Linked DNA regions of Homo sapiens: region 2 is linked to region 1. The links come from fine-mapping of genetic effects on gene expression. Tissue or cell type: tibial artery. Region 1 holds a variant in brackets; the other region holds the start of a gene. All regions are shown on one strand. Distances are from middle to middle.

Region 1 (8,105 bases):
CTGACTGGTTATTCTTGCTTTTGTGGGCGGCCATACAAATCATGTGCTGTGGGGAAGTCATGTCAATCATTTCACTGTCTACAGGATTCCCTGGAAGCTTGAAGCAATTTTTCAGATAATTAAGTCCACAGAATACTTTTTTTTCCTCAATGATTGGGATATCTCAAGTGAGTCAAAACTTTATTGCGATTGCCTCAATTCTCCATTTTCCTGGTCATATATCAAAAAAGACTTTCTGCTTCCTATATGTGGGGCTTAGCATCCACATTGTAATTCACCAGAGACTCTCTGGAGAGCTTGGCTTGGTCCCATGTATCCTAGTACAAGCTTGCCACTGGTCTAAGTTAGAAAATATACAGATTTGGGGCCCACAGAAATGTCCAATTTTATACTTTTTTTTTTTAAATGGAGAGGAGTCTCTGAGTGAGAGAGGATTTGGAAAAATGGCCAGCAGATAACAATAACAATAGTGACTAACATTTATTGAGTACATACCATGTGTTAACTGTGTGAAATAATTTTCATGTAAACCTTTTGGCAACCTAAGGTTGGCAGCATGGAAGCTTTGAGAGTGTAAGTTTCTTGTCCAGAATTTTATAACTAGAAAGTGACAGAGCCTGGATTCCAACCTATACCCATGGACACCAGAGTGTCTATATGTGTCTTTCCAGTGAGCGATGGTTCACACTCATTGGAAACATGAGTGCCATTGGAACATACTAGTCAATATGATGCCGAAAACAGTAACAGAAAGAGTGCAGGTGTTGAATACGTGTTCCTTTTCACACTGGAAAGAAAGATGGTGAGAAGTTGGCATGTCTTCCACGCAATTCCATCCCATCAGCTGGTCTCCAAATTCCCACTCCTCTTGGTTCCCACTTCTCTTTGTCTCTTTCCAGAAGGAAACAAACTCCCTGATGACCCTCACTGAAAATTCACAAACTTTACAAATTTCAATAGATTAGCTGTGGCTTCTTTTTAAAATACTCATAGGTAGCTGGGTCCTGGAGAGCTCTAAAGCCCTCTAATTTTGCTTGCAGACGGAAGAAGGGAAACTCGAGTCACTGGAGACAAAGGGGCAAAGGCATGGGTTTGGCGGCAGAGGGAAAGAAATGGTCTGTGACCAGGGCTTAAGCTGCCTGTGTTGGCTCTGAGTGACAGTATGCTCTTGCTCCAAGGACCTTAATTGGCTGATAGAGTGATTGCTTTGGCCAAAGGTCCAATTAATACTCAAGATTTGAGGACTGGTTTTCCAACCCCAGTTGGATGACTTTCCTGGCAAGCAAAGGTTACCGCTGTAAATTCAACTTGCTTCCTTAACTGGGCACCCACTCTATAATGTGAGGCTATCATTCTGTCTGGTTAATTCCAGACAAGACTTTGTGAGCAGATGGGGAATTTGGATTTTCAAATTCGAAAAAAAAAAAAAAAAGCATAAGTGAGTGTGAGTTTTATGTAGTTACCTCGATGCTCCACCTTGTGGAAAATGTGCTAAATCCCAATGTAGGAGGAGGCAGGATTGCAAATGTGAAGCAGAGTGGTTGGCCCAGGGGTTTATGCTCACTGAGAATGTTCTCATCAATAGCTTGCTGTGATTGGCTATGGACCTATTGAAATCACCATTAAACTAGAAAACAAAGTTACTCAGCCCTCGTGTGGAAAGTGTCTAAGACAGTAATGCAGAGGCCGTAGTCTGAAGGTGGCACCTCGCACTACAGAACAATGGTAGGAGCTCCAGGTTCGGATCATGGTTCTGAATTTACTAGTTGTGTGCACTTAAGTTGCTTAGTCTAATTAATAAAGCAGGGATGATAATTCCTCTTTACAGCTTTGTTGCAAGGATTGCATTAAAGAAAACATGTAAAAGCATAAGGGCATTCAATTAATGTTACAAGAGCCCTTCCCTCAACCCCAAGGGCGGCTGCAGCTGTTCAGCCTGACACTTTATGTGTGTTGGTCACAGTGCTGTCTTGGAGAATCACATACGGGATAGTGCTTACCTCCCCATAGCAGCCACGTCATAGCAAATAGCTCATTAGCATGCAGTTTCTTCCCTCCCTGTTCAGCAGCCCAGCAGACAAGCTGTCTCAGAGCCTGGATTTCAGCATGTTGCACTCACCGCAAATATCCTGCAGGCTGCCCACTCCATTCTGCTGCCCTTCGCAAGGCTTCACTTTGCCCTCCAACCCTTTTTTTCTCTTGTTTACCAGATGGAACGAAGTCTGTTTGTGGAAACACCCTTCCCCTCTGTTTACTTGGACCTGATTTTGAAAGTAACAAGTCACTTTATTTGGGCTGGAGGAAAAAGCACTAAACCAGATGTTGAGGTGACCGGGATTCCTGGAAGACATTCTTCTCTCCAACGAGACACATGATGCATGAAGTAGGAGCCCCTGGCAAGGAGCCCAGGCTGCCATGGCCTCGCTCGCTCCTGCTTCCCGGCATGGCCCCGAGGCTAGCTGCCTCTGTACTGCCTGAGCATCGTCCCCTGGCGTGTCACCAGACTACCCACTACCTGTGCTTGCACCTGCAGGTGGGCAGTTCAGTCGTTGCAGGCTGAAGCTCCCTGTCACAGGAGTCCATCAGCACTGGAGTTTACCAAATGGCCCAGTCCAGGTCTGTGTCATATTGTTTTGCAAAAGCAAGAAAACTCATTCAGAGCTTGTTACTTTTATCCCTGACTTCCTAAGTGAGCAGTGTAGCCAGAGAACTACATCCCCTGACATCCTTTAAGAGCCATGACCACTCCTGCCCTTGCTTTGTGACAGGCACTCCTGGATGCTGAAGTGCTGTTGCTGTGCACCACTATGCATCCTGTGTGAGGATGAGCACTCCAGTCCTTGCTCCCTCTTCCCGTGGCTGGCTCATTAGCCAGAGCAAACTGTGGCCTTGAAGGAGCAGAAGGAGCATTTGACTCTTCCCAGCTCTCAGTCTTTGGAAAATTGAGCAAAGTGGAATGAAAGCCATTTATTCATTTAACTGGCAGTTATTTATTGAGCATCTATTATGTGGCAGGCACCGTGGTGACACTGAAAAGAGAAGGGTGAACAAGGACAGTCCTGAGCTCAAGCAGGCTGCTGGCAGGTGGTAGTGGGGGCAGACAAGCAAAGGGGCACCCATGCCATGGCCTGCAATGCACCACCTCCAGGACAAGGTTTGGGACCCATCCCTGGGTCTTGGGGGACATTCTAAAAGGAAGCAGTGGCTCAGCATAGACCTGAAGGACAAGAAGGCACCAGTCATGTGTGGAGTGGGTTGGTGGAGATGCGCAGAGTGCAAGGAGGTCTGGAGGTGAGACCTCCAGGCAGAATGGAGGGAGGTGTGTCCCATAGCATGTGGACTCTAAGGGGCTGGGAGATCTTAGGGGTCCCTGGAGGCTGACTGAAGGCTGGCCAGGGAGCCTGCCTGGTAAGGGCCTCCAAGGTCAGGTTTGGGTGTAAGAGTAGCCATTTCTAGCACTGGTTGAGGTGCACTTCCCTGTCAGTGCCCCAAAATCCTTCAGCAGTGTCTGATACGATGTTCTAGACTGGCATTGTTTCCAGTGCAGGCCCTGTCTCATTCTTCAGGAAGCATGCTCATGGCAATACCCGGAGTCTCCACTGCAAGACCAGAGTGACGGAGGCAGCAGAGCTCCTCAGCAGGCCAGGAGTCTCCAGAGGCACTGCCGAATGTCTAAGAAGCAACCTCATTGTATTCCCAAGACCTGGGAATCCAGGTCTCGCAGATACGATGATACAATCTATAGCCAGGACATCTCTTCATGTGTAGGTAAGTAGGGGATGGGGTAAGTTCATCTGGTGTTTCTAGGCTTTCTTGATTTTCTATATGCCACTGACGCCTTTCACCTTCATCCA[G/A]TTTTCAATGAATACTAGGATAAGCAACTATCCCAGTCTTCCCAGGATTGAGGGGCTTCTCCAGATGCTGCACTTCTGGTGCTAAAAATGAGAAACTGAAATGAATTAGTCACCCAAGGAATGCTGACCCTGTGCTATATGATCACATTTACTCTTTAAAGCAATGCTTTGAGGTAGGTAATATTATTTCCATTTTAAATAATTTATAAATAAGAGATAAAGTGTGATTCCCAAGGCCATTATCCAGTAAGTGATAGAGACTGGGTTTAGGTTATATTGTCTGATTTAAAGCCAGTATATTTGTTATCTGCATAATAAATTACTCCAAATCTTGGGCTTAAACCAACAATACGAGTTTATTAATCCATAGTTTCTGTGGATCAGAAGTTGAGGAGCAGTTTAGCTGGATGGTTCTGGCTCAGGATCTCTCATGATAGGATCTCTCCTCATAGTATTGGGGGCTGTGGTCATCTGAAGGCCTGACTGGGGCTGGAGGACCTGACTTCAGGATGGTGCACTCACATGGCTGCTGGCAGGGAACTACACAAGAGACAGGCTACCATAGTGACTGTGTATCTGATGCTTCCACAGCTACCCCTTAGGACTCTAAGTCCTAGAATTGGGACTAGAAGTGGGGATTAAAGGGATTCCATAGGATGAGATTGACTAAAAATATATATACATGAATAGGCATACACAGGAATATTCATTATATGTGTAAATACCATCATTTGTATTCAGGCACACCTTGTTTTATTGTGGCTTTATTGCACTTCACAGATATTGTATTTTTTTTAGAAATTGAAGGTTTGTGACAACCCTGTGTTGAGCAAGTCTATCAGCACTGTTTTTCCAACAGCATGTGCTCACTTTGTGTCTCTGTGTCACATTTTGGTAACTCTTACAATATTTTGAACGTTTTTATGACTATTATATCTGTTGTGGTAATCTGTGATCTTTGATGTTACTATTGTAATTGTTTTGGAGCTTCATGAACCATGCCCATATAAGATGGCAAATTTAATTGATAAATGTCGTGTGTGTTCTGACTGCTCCACCAACCAGCGTCTCCTTCATTTCTCTCCCTCTCTTCAAGCCTCCCTATTCCCCAAGATACAATAATATTGAAATTAGGCCAATCACTAAGCCTACAATGGTTTCTAAGTGTTCCAGTGAAAGGAAAAGTTGCATGTCTCTAATTTTAAATTAAAAGCTAGAAATTATTAAGAGTGTGAGGAAGGCATGTTGAAAGCCCAGACAGGTTGAAAGCTAGCTAGGCCTCTTATGTCAAACAAGCCAAGTTGTGAATGCAAAGAAAAAGTTCTTGAAAAGTTAAAAGTCCTACTCTAGTGAACACATGAATGATAAGAAAACAAAACAGCCTTAGTGCTGATAGGGAGAAAGTTTGAGTGGTCTGAATAGAAGATCAAACCAGCCACCACATTCCCATAAGCCAAAGCCTAATCCAGAGCAAGGCCCCCAACTCTCTTCAATTCTATTGAGTAAGACTGTTCTTGTGTTGCTATAAAGAAATACCTGAGGCTGGGTGATTTGTAAAGAAAAGAGGTCTAATTGGCTCCTGGTTCTGCAGGCTGTATAAGAAGTATGGTGCTGACACTTGCTTCTGGTGAGGGCCTGAGGGAGCTTTTGATTGTGGCAGAAGGTAAAGGGGAAGCAGGCACATCACACAGTGAGAATGGGAGCAAGAGAGGGAGTGGGGGCTGCCACACACTTTTAAACAACCAGATCTCACCAGAACTCACTCACCCTCATGAGGACAGCACCAAGACATGAGGGATTCACCCGCCATGACCCAATCACCGCCCACCAGGCCCCACCTCCAACATTGGGAATCATATGTTAACATGATATTTTAAGGGGACAAACATCCAAACTGTATCATCTGTGAAGGCTGACAGAGCTGAGGAAGCTGCAAAAGAAAACTCTGAAGCTATCAGAGACTGGATCGTGAGGTTTAAGGAAAGAAGCCATCTTCATAACATAAAAGTGCAAGGTGAAGCAGCAAGTGCTGATGGAGAAGCTCCAGCAAATTGTCCAGAAGACGTAGCTCAGATCACTGATGAAGGTGATTACACTAAACAATAGATTTCTAAGGTGGATAAATCAGCCTTGCATTGGAAAAAGATGTCATCTAGGACTTTCATAGCTAGAGAAGAGAAGTCAATGCCTGGCTTCCAAGCTTCAAGGGGCAGGCTGGCTCTTTTGTTAGGGGCTAATGCAGCTGGTGACTTTAAGTTGAAGTCAGTGCTCCTTTACCATTCCTAAAATGCTAGAGTCCCTATGAATGATGCTCAATCTACTCTGCCTGTGCTCTATCGGTGAAACATCAAAGTCTGGGTGACAGCACATCTGTTTACAGTATGGTTTACTGAATATTTTAAGCCCTCTGTTGAGACCTACTGCCCAGATTAAAAAAAAAAAGATTCCTTTCAAAATATTACTATTCACTAACAATGCACCTAGTCACCCAAGAGCTCTGATGAAGATGGAGACGAATGTTATGTTCATGCCTGCTAATACAACGATCTATTCTGCAACCTGTGGATCAAGGACTAATTTCGACTTTCAGTCTTATTATTTCAGATATACACTTTCTAAGGCTATAGTTGCCCTAGACAGTGATTCCTCTGATGGATCTGGGAAAAGTTAATTGAAAACCTCTGGAAGGGATTTATCATTTTAGATGCCATTAAGAACATTTGTGATTCCTGGAAGGATGTTCAGAAGTTTGGAGGAAGTTGATTCCAACCCTCTTGGATGACTTAGAGGGGTTCAAGGCTTCAGTGGAGAAAATCACTGTAAATGTGATAAAAATAGCAAGAGCACTAGAATTACAAGTGAAGGCTGAAGATGTGACTGAACTGCTGCCATCTCATGATAAAGCTTAGATGGATGAGGGGCTGATTCTGTGGATGAGCAAAGAAAGCAGTTCCTTGAGGTGGAACCTACTTCTGCTGAAGATGCTGTGAACATTGTTGAAATGACAGCAAAGGATTTAGAGTATTACTTGAACTTGCTTGATAAAGTAGTAGCAGGCTTTGAGAAGACTGATTCCAGTTTTGAAAGTTCTGGGTAAATGCTATCAAACAGCATTGGAGGCTACAGAGAAATCTTTTGTGAAAGGAAAAGTCATAGATGCATCAAACTTCATTGTCCTAAAGAAATAGCACAGCCACCCCAACCTTCAGCAACCACCACTCTGATCAGTTAGCAACCATTAACAGTGAGGCAAGACCTGCAAGCAAAAGGGTGATGACTTGCTGATTGTTAGCATTTTTAAAGCAATAAGTACTTTTTAATTAAGGTATGTACATTGCTCCTTTAGACATAATGCTATTGCATACTTAATAGACTACTGTATAGTGTGAACATAATTTTATATGCACTAGGAAACCAAAAGTTTGTGTGATTCCCTTTTTTTTTTTTTGCAGTAGTCTGAAACTGAACTCACAATATCTCCAAGGTATGCCTGTACTCAAATAAGTGTGCTTTTAAAATAATCACCATTGGCTGGGTGTGGTGGCTCATGCCCATAATCCTTAGCACTTTGGGAGGCTGAGGCGGGTGGATCACCTGAGGTCAGGAGTTCGAGACCAGCCTGGCCAACATAGGGAAACCCTGTCTCTACTAAAAATACAAAAAAGTAGCCGGGCGTGGTGGCAGGTGCCTGTAATCCCAGCTACTCTGGAAACTGAGGCAGGAGAATTGCTTGAACCTGGGAGGCGGAGGTTGCAGTGAGCCAAGATGGTGCCATTGCACTCCAGCCTGGGTGACAGAACAAGACTCTGTCTCAAAAAAAAAAAAAAAATCACTATCTTGGTAGTCTACATACTTGCTCTAAGGAGGTTTCCATCACACCAAATATTTTTGTTTGGATATTAATTATGGATAATAGTTTATTCCTGATTTTCCAAACTTTATAATATCAATGAATATATCATTTTATAATCACAAAAACGTTTTGTTCCAAGTTTTATAATATAAACATATGTATTAATTTTATAACCAGATGAAAGCTCTTTTAAAAAACATTTTTATAATATATATTAACACATATATGATGGATACTGCTTGGATTTCCACTTATGTCTTTATAAATAAGCAGCCTGTTCAGATGTTTCAGAAGGTAAAATATATACTATTACTAACAGATACAATCACATATAGAATTGTATATTCCATTATATGTGCAAGTATGTACACCATTTCCTGGAATTCAAATTGGTGGGA
Region 2 (8,105 bases), 150 kb before region 1:
AGCAGACAGGACACCCTGGCTGTCCGCACTATTCTCAAGCGGGAATTTGGGACAACCCATTTAAGAGCCCATCTTGGCACAAATGCCATGATAGCCCCAAGTGCCAGAGCAGTGGCATTTGAATCTGAAATCTCTTCTTAGAGTAAGACTATTTATTTCTCTCTGTCTCATAAGGCTCACCACAGTCTGTATAACAAAATGACTTACAGCAACTGCTGAGATCTGGGTTCAGATCTCAGTTCTGACACTCATTAGATGTACGACCTCAGGGAACATATTTAACCTTACTTAGCCAGGGATAAATGGGGATACTTATTATACCTGTCTCTTAGGTAGGGATATACAAAATGCTTAGCAGAGTGAATAGCTCAGTAAGTTCTCAGCCAATATTATTAAGAAAACATACAATAAGGTATGGATTTTCAGACCCCTTGCATTAACACCACAGTGCTCCAGAGATCCTTGATACTCAAGTTGGGAGTCACTGTCCTGGAATACAAATAAAAAACATAAAAGAGCAGTAAATTCCATCTGCAAGTGTTTATGTGGTAGCTACAGAATTCAGCACTATGCTAGGGGTACAGAAGCCAATGCAACACCAAATGAGGAGACAATGCAGAGGGCAGATGCCGGAGGGAAGAAAGAAACACTGGGGCAGAGATTCAACCCAACCTGAAAGCCATGCAGGTGTTTTAAGTTGGAAATGAAATGAGGAACCAAAAAATTCCAGTCAGGGAGTGGTCTGCTGAGTGTGGTGCTTCAGGTAGACTCCCATGACAGGCTGCAGGACAAACTAGAGTGGGGGCCCACTTCCATACCTTCCTGGCCACTCAGTTCCAGCCAAATGACTGCTCTTAAAAGTCAAAATTAGGTTCCATTTCTAATCTGCACTGATTCATACTGCTGGTCGTGTAAATTGGTATAGGCCACACCAACACAGCACATTAGTTAAGATGTTAATCTTAACTAATTTCCGGACAATACTAAAATAAAATCTCTACTTTCCAGAGATTAGGTAAACTTGGTAAACATTTGAGCTTCAGGTCCAGTCTGACAAAATGGAAAAAAGGGAATCATCTGCAGAAAGGTCCCAGCATTAGAAAACAAAGAGAAGGGGGAGGACAGTATGTAGGCCCTGACCTGTCTTACTGCCTCAATTCAAGGATTCAATTTCTCAACCTCAGATCCTTGCCCTCTTACTAGTTTTCAAACTCAGATCCACCTCTTACTAGTTTTCAAACTCTTGTCTATTATGATTACCTTAAGCAAAGCAAGATGCATGAATAACCAGCAGTAAATCAGGTATTCAATACTTGAAATTGTGTAATATTCTGTGACTGTGCATCTGGCCAATTTCAACTTCTCCTTCTTTTTTTTTTTTTTTTTTTTTTTTTTTTTTTTTGAGGCAGGATCTCACTCTCTTGCCCCAGGCTGGAGTACAGTGGTACCATCATTGCTCACTGCAGCAGCCTCAGACTCCCGGACTCAAGTGATCCTCCTGCCTCAGCCTCCTGAGTAGCTAGCACTACAGGTGAGCACCAACATGCCTGCCTCATTTTTTAAATTTTTTTGTAGAGACAACGTCTCAATATGTTGCCCAGGCTGGTCTCAAACTCCTGGCCTCACCTCGAGCAATCCTTCCACCTCTGCACACCGAAGTGCTGAGATTTCAAGTATGAGCCGCTGCCTCCTGCCCACTTAGCCCTTTCTAACACTAGAGAACTTTGAGAGTGGTTTCAATACCAACTGGACACTTCCCAGCGGTTTAACCTCAGGCAAATCAAACTCCCATGCCTCAGTTTCCACATATATAGAGATAATAAAAGTACCTCCTCAAAGAGTTTGTTATGAGAACTAAATGAGTTAATGTTAGGCAAGCGACTGGAACATGATAGACACAATATGTATTAGCCATTATCACCTTTATCTCAGTGTTATATTGGCCACCACCCAGAGATACCCAGGAGCACACACATCACATTCTTTCTACAGCAATATGTGGGCACGATTACTTCATGACCACTGAATCTAAAACAGCACAGCTTGGTAAGACACAGCGGTCGGATCCCACCTACTGCAACACCTCTAAGAGGCGACCCTCACAAACCAGCCATGCTTAGCCTGAGACATTCCGAAGACCTCCTCTTGATTACCTTACTCGACGAACTTATTCCTTTGAAAATGGAACTAGCCGCACTTTTGGACCAGTGTGCCTCGGATACACTTCCAAATGTGTCAACCTGAATCTCAGAAGTTGGCGTGATTTTAAAAAGTTTTTTAAGTTCTTTTTCCTAAACATGTCCTAGTAGGTGACTCCACAGCATTACTTTCTTTCATGTTCTCTTTTCTATCTGGAAATCCGGTGATAGGGGACGAAACCAGCAAAGCACCCTTTTTCTTGCTTCCCAAACGTTAGCAGGTAAGCGCCCCTTGAGCCGAGACACATCAAGAAGACCTCACCCGCAAGTTCATTGATCACCGGTTCTTTTCCCTTTCCGGCACTAGGAGCTGCGAAGCACGACATGGGCTTGGAGGAAGAGACGCTGCGGTCACCTGAGGGGCAGGTGAGAGCGGGCGGTCCTGCCCGGGTGTGAGCGCGACATCCCGCGCGGCACACACGCTCACAGCCCCCAGAGAAAGACCAGAGGCGCTCGATGTATCCCGCACACCCCACACGCAACACACTAACTGCACCGTACCTTCCGTCCCACCTCCCGGCAGCAGACCCCTTCCGGGACGCCGAGAGGGCTGTTCCTGGAGAGACCGCAGCCCACGAGTAGCGGCGCGTAGGGAGAGCACGCGTGCCCAGGCTGCCTCGGCCGGCGCGCCCCCGCCCCCGCACTCACCTGGCCTGTGATACCGGTGATGAGCGCCACGTTCCTGGGCTTGCCCATCTCGCCGTCCCCGGAGCCCCGGGCGCTGGGGCAGCGTGCCGGTGCGTGTGCCATGTCCCGCGGCGGGCGTGCGGTCGGCGGCAGGGCGGAGCGCGGCAGAGGGCAGGCGCGGTGCCGGCAGGAACGCGGGGGTGTGCAGCACGAAGCGCCTCTCCAGGCTGCGGGCAGGGAGGGAGAGCGCACCGCGCGACCGGCCGCCACAGTCTGACAGGGGCGCACGGGAGGCCGTGCAGGGAGGGCCGGGGGCGGGCCGAGCCGGCCAAGGCGGGCCCGACGGGCCAAGCAGCGGGGCTGCGGCCTGACTGGCGCAGCGTCATTCGCGTCAGCCGGCGACGCTGTAGCAGGCCCCGCCCCTCCGCCGACGGCCACCGCGCGGGAGGGGCGGGGCCTGCCGCCGCCACCGCCTCAGGGAAGAGGAAGGAGGCCGCGGCTTCGCGTCCCGCCTCTCGCCTGGCTGGCCGTGGGGGGCCTGGACGCAGTGGCCTCCCGAATCTCCCAGGACCCTAATATCGCCCGAGGATGCTGGGAGGAACGCTGAGCCGACCTCTCCGTTAGGCTGAAGGTCTGAATTTTCAAACCCAGGGGTCACAGGGCCGGGGTCATGGACTTTGATAAATAATTCCTGGAAACCTGTTGCAGTGCCCTTTGAGAAGCCCGGTTTATGGTACCTGAAGGGCAGTAGCGTACAAGGCCCGTAAACGGGGGTCACAGATGTGGGAGTGACTAACTAGGCTGGCTCTCGCTCTTCTGGCCTTTCCTGAGGCTCGGAACCAGTAACGAGGTTCCAAATAGCTGAATTCAAAGTTTTCTCTTCTGAGGACTGCCAGTGCACAAGAAAGTCCCTAGCCCCACCCGTATGCGGCATAAGGAAATGTTGAAAAGACTGCCCGGGTCAATAAACCTGGACGTGGCAGATTTCAAAGAAAGTAATTCAAACACAGGTGGGGTCCCGGCTTACATCTGTTGGATTTGGCTGCCATTTGGCAGCTGCTCGTTGGACAGGGAGAGGAGAGGAGGTGACTCAGAGCCGGGAGGGCAGCAGGTGTGTGTGCCTAAGCAGTTGGCTGCAATCCAGGACACAGACGGAAACTTCCCGGTCTCCGTTGCTCTGCTTCTCTGTCCACATTCCTCTCCCTAATCGATAACTTCAGATCATCATTTCAAATCACAGAGTTACTAGGGCTGTGCCCAATATAACGTGCAAGAGTATGTATAGCAGACCTGGAACCCCAAAATCAGAAAAGCTCAGGATTACATTTAAAACCTCCCTCTCGCGCTCCTCGAGGTCCGTTAGGAATATTTCTTAGCTATAGATAGACTGGTCTGGTTTCACACCTGGCCTCTCCTCTGCGTTCTATGAGGAGAATGGCTCAACAAACATCTGATGGTGCCTCTGAGTGATGAAGAGACCCTGAAGCTGAGGAGAGGGAACACTTCCATTGAGAGGAACATGCTATAAGCTAGAAATGTCTGTGAAATATACGGGAATATGCTAAAACTATACTCATTTTCATGTAAATACGCTTTAAATTAATGCATGAGCCAATTATTTAACATTTTCCTTAAAAAAATCACTGAGCAAGCCGGGCGCAGTGGCTCACGCCTGTAATCCCAGCACTTTGGGAAGCTGCGGCAGGTGGATCACCTGAGGTCAGGAGTTCAAGACCAGCCTGGCCAACACGGTGAAAACCCGTCTCTACTAAAAATACAAAAAATTAGCCAGGCGTGGTGGTGGGCACCTGTAATCCCAGCTACTCTGGAGGCTGAGGCAGAAGAATCGCTTGAACCCGGGAGGAGGAGGTTGCAGTGAGCCGAGATCTTGCCATTGCGTTCCAGCCTGGGCAAGAAGAGCAAAACTCCATCTCAAAAAAAAAAAAAAAAAATCACTGAGCAAAACTGATACTTATGGGAGATATGACACATTTATCCTGTAGTTTTGAGACCTCCTATCACACAAACACTGGAAGTTGACACCAGTCAATTTCCTGTCACACCACCAAACACCTGCCCTAGAAGTGTGTGACAGTAGAAGAAAAATGGAAAAAAAATCAACATTATTAGGGCCTGAAAATATTTATAAAATGATGGGAAATGGTAGGTCAGAGGAAGCTTGAAGAATAAAGGCTATTTCTCTAGAGAACTTTTCTGAAGACAGGTGGTAGGTCTGCTACAGCAACGTACCATCCATAGGGTGACAAACGATAGAAATTTATTTCCTCACAGTTCTGGAGACTGGAAGTTTAGGATCAAGGGCTGATTTCTTCTGAGGCCTCTCTCCTTTTCTTGTAGCTGGCTGTCTTCATGTTCACATGGCGTTCTCTCTGTATGTGTGTCTGTGTCCAAACTTCCTGTTCTTATAAGAACACCAGTTACATTTGATTAGGACCCTCTTTAATGACCTTATTTCCAAATACAGTCACATTTTGAGCTACTAAGAGTTAAGACATCAATATATTAATTGGGGGAGGGACAAAATTCAACCCATGATTGACAGCTAGAGGGAAAAAGAGGTTCTTTTTTTTAACTGTTTGTGGGCTCGGAGGGAGGAGGTTGGTAGTGGAGGTTGTTGTCATTTTCCCAGTAGCATTAGGGCAACTTGAACAACGTCAGCACAGGGTCTGGGGCAGCATAAGAAGATTACATTAACTAGAAGTAAAGCGACCAGCGGTAGTGGAAAGCTCTAAGGGTGATGGCTCAGTTGTGTTTTCCTCTAACACAGTTCTCATCCCTGGGTGATTTTGCCCCCAGGGGACATTTGACAATGTCTGGAGGCATTTTTGATTGTCACAAATGGAGTTGTGCTATAGGTATCTAATGAGTAGAGGTTAAGTATTTTGCTCACCATCTGCAGTGCACAGGAAGCTCCCACAACAAAGATTTTTCTAGCCCAAAATGTCAATAGTGCTGAGGCTGAGTAACCCTTCTCCAGGAGGCCAGTGAAAGATGTTAACAAGCGGGTGGTTGAACTGACAGACACTGGCTATACTATACAGTGACTTCATGGTATGTCAGAAGAAGCAAATACATTTGGTAGCTAATTGTTGATGCTGATACCTTTACTCACAAACTTGGCTAATCTCCAGAAACATACTAGCTGCTGAGGGTATAGCAGTAGAGGAGAAATAATCTTCAAGGGGCTATAATCTGAAAGGGATATGATATTGAATCATTTTATGACTTTTCATAACATTTTCATATTTGTTTTAATATGATACAAAATATAGAGAAAAGAGTGAGGCCTCCAACTCCAAGTCCTCTAATTGGATAAAAGTCAATCATTCTGTACAAGACTAAATATGTGGAATAACATTTTTCACTTCTTTCTTTCCCATCTCTTGCCACTGAGTGCATGCCAGTTATTCAAGAACGATTCTCCAGCATTCCCTTTAAAATTCTCTCTCCTCTCCTTTTTTAAACATTTCTTTCCTTTGCTTTTCACATGGAACATTTGCTGATCTTCTTTCTCAGATTGCACAAACCATGCTAATGGCCAGCATGGATGGAGGGAGCGTGTGAGATGTGTGGGGCAGCGTGCTGCATCTCAGCCAACTCCAGGAGGTAAGTGCGTCTGCTGTGGTGAAATCTATATTTGGTCTTCATTTCTGTTTTCCTGGCATATGATTTCTAAAATGCTTAGAATCACCAAAGCGATGTATTTTGTAGGGTAATGAGTGAGTTCACTGTTGGCTGGCAGCCCTTAGGTGGCTTCAGGGTGGAAACTGGTCATTGTAAAGACCAATGCAGGATTAGAGGGCTGGGACTTTCAGCCCCATCCCCTAACCTCCAGGGAGGAGAGAGAAGCTGATGGTTAAGTTGATCACCAACGGCCAACGATTTAATCAATCATGCCGACATAATGAAGCCTCCATAAAAACCCAAAAAGGACTGTGTGCAGAGAGTTCTAGATAGTTGAACACGTGGAGGTACATGGAGGGTGACGCTTCAGGGTGGGCACCAAAGCTCCAAGCTCCTCCTATTCCTTGCCCTGTACATCTCCTCATCTGCATCCTTTGTCATATACTTTGTCATACCAGTAAACTGGTAATCCTGAGTAAGAGATTCCCTGAGTTCCGTGAGCCACTCTTTCAGATTAATAAACCTAAGAAGGGGGTCACGTGAAGCCCACTTTTTGGCCAGTCAGAAGCACAGGTAGAATAACCTGGGGCTTGCAATTGGCATCAGAAGTTGGCGGGGGCACAGTATTGGGGACTGAGCCCTTGACCTGTGGGATCTGATGCTATCTCCAAGGAGACAGTGTCAGAGTTGAATGGAATTGAAGGGCACCCAGCTGGTGTGCCCTATAGAATTGATTGCCTGCTTGTGGGTGGGAAGAAATCCCATGCATACTTGGTCACAGAAGTCTTCTCTGTTGATTGGTGTTTTGTTAGAGCAGGGGAAAAACAATTTGAGTTTGTCCACACTCAGTATGATAATGATCTTTATTTCATAGAGTCAGAAACTGAGGATTGGAAACATTAATAAACTCGCCCAAGGCCACATAGCTAGTGGCTGGTTATGGTAGATATTATGCTCATTCAACTCCCATTCCATACTCTCTTTGGAAAAATTAGAGTGCTCAAAGCCACATGTCCCAGACCATTTTGCATCTCATATATAGGAAGCAAATTGAGCTTTGTCAATTAGATGCGTTCCTGCTCAATCTGGCAGGTGGAAGTGAAACAGAAGCCATCCTTCTGCTTTCTGGTCCAACTGACATGAGGATTAACGGCAGTTAGAGTCCAAGTTTGGGTCTAGTCACCGTTTTCATGGGCATGAGAGCCACTTGGGTTGGGGGAGCAGCATGGCAGCAGGAGTGGTTTTCTGAATTCTGGCCTTCAGCTATGGTGGTAATGTCCTGACATCAACAACTGAAGGCCCTCCGAGTTCTCTTCCTCTGTCTCATAAATATTTTTTTCAACTAATAATTGTAGATTCAAATGTATTTTTAAGAAATACAGTGAGTGACATGGTCATGTCTTCAAATACTATAGAGCAATAGCACAAGCAGCATATTGGCGTTGATAGAATTCACCAATCTCATTCAGATTTCCTCAGTTTTTGTACTCATTTGTGCAAGAGTATGTGTATTTACTTGTGTACCGTTTGGTTTGGTTTGTTTTGCCTGAGACAAGGTCTCACTCTGTCATCCAGACTCACTTGCAGCCTCAACCTCCTGGGCTCAAGCCGTCCTCCTGCCTCAGCCTTCTATAT

The links. PIP is the estimated chance that this variant, and not a neighbour inherited with it, causes the effect.
Region 2: GMDS-DT starts here. The variant in region 1 is fine-mapped to the expression of GMDS-DT in tibial artery (GTEx, PIP 0.99). The same link has a PIP of 0.9 or more in unexposed skin.

Annotation. Positions count from the first base shown.
Region 1 is chr6:2,395,011-2,403,115 of GRCh38, forward strand. GMDS-DT (GMDS divergent transcript) reads left to right here. Exons shown (of 7, transcript NR_046229.1): 5 at 3,567-3,768; 6 at 3,856-4,027. Among named protein-coding and RNA genes, the nearest start is that of GMDS-DT, 150 kb to the left of the region's middle. The variant G/A (reference allele first, on the strand shown) is at 3,855.
Region 2 is chr6:2,242,475-2,250,579 of GRCh38, forward strand. GMDS-DT (GMDS divergent transcript) reads left to right here and starts at 3,279. Exons shown (of 7, transcript NR_046229.1): 1 at 3,279-3,456; 2 at 6,363-6,452. GMDS (GDP-mannose 4,6-dehydratase) reads right to left here and starts at 3,131. Exons shown (of 11, transcript NM_001500.4): 1 at 2,847-3,131. The coding sequence starts at 2,948. RefSeq lists an enhancer at 2,773-3,273 and a silencer at 2,774-3,403.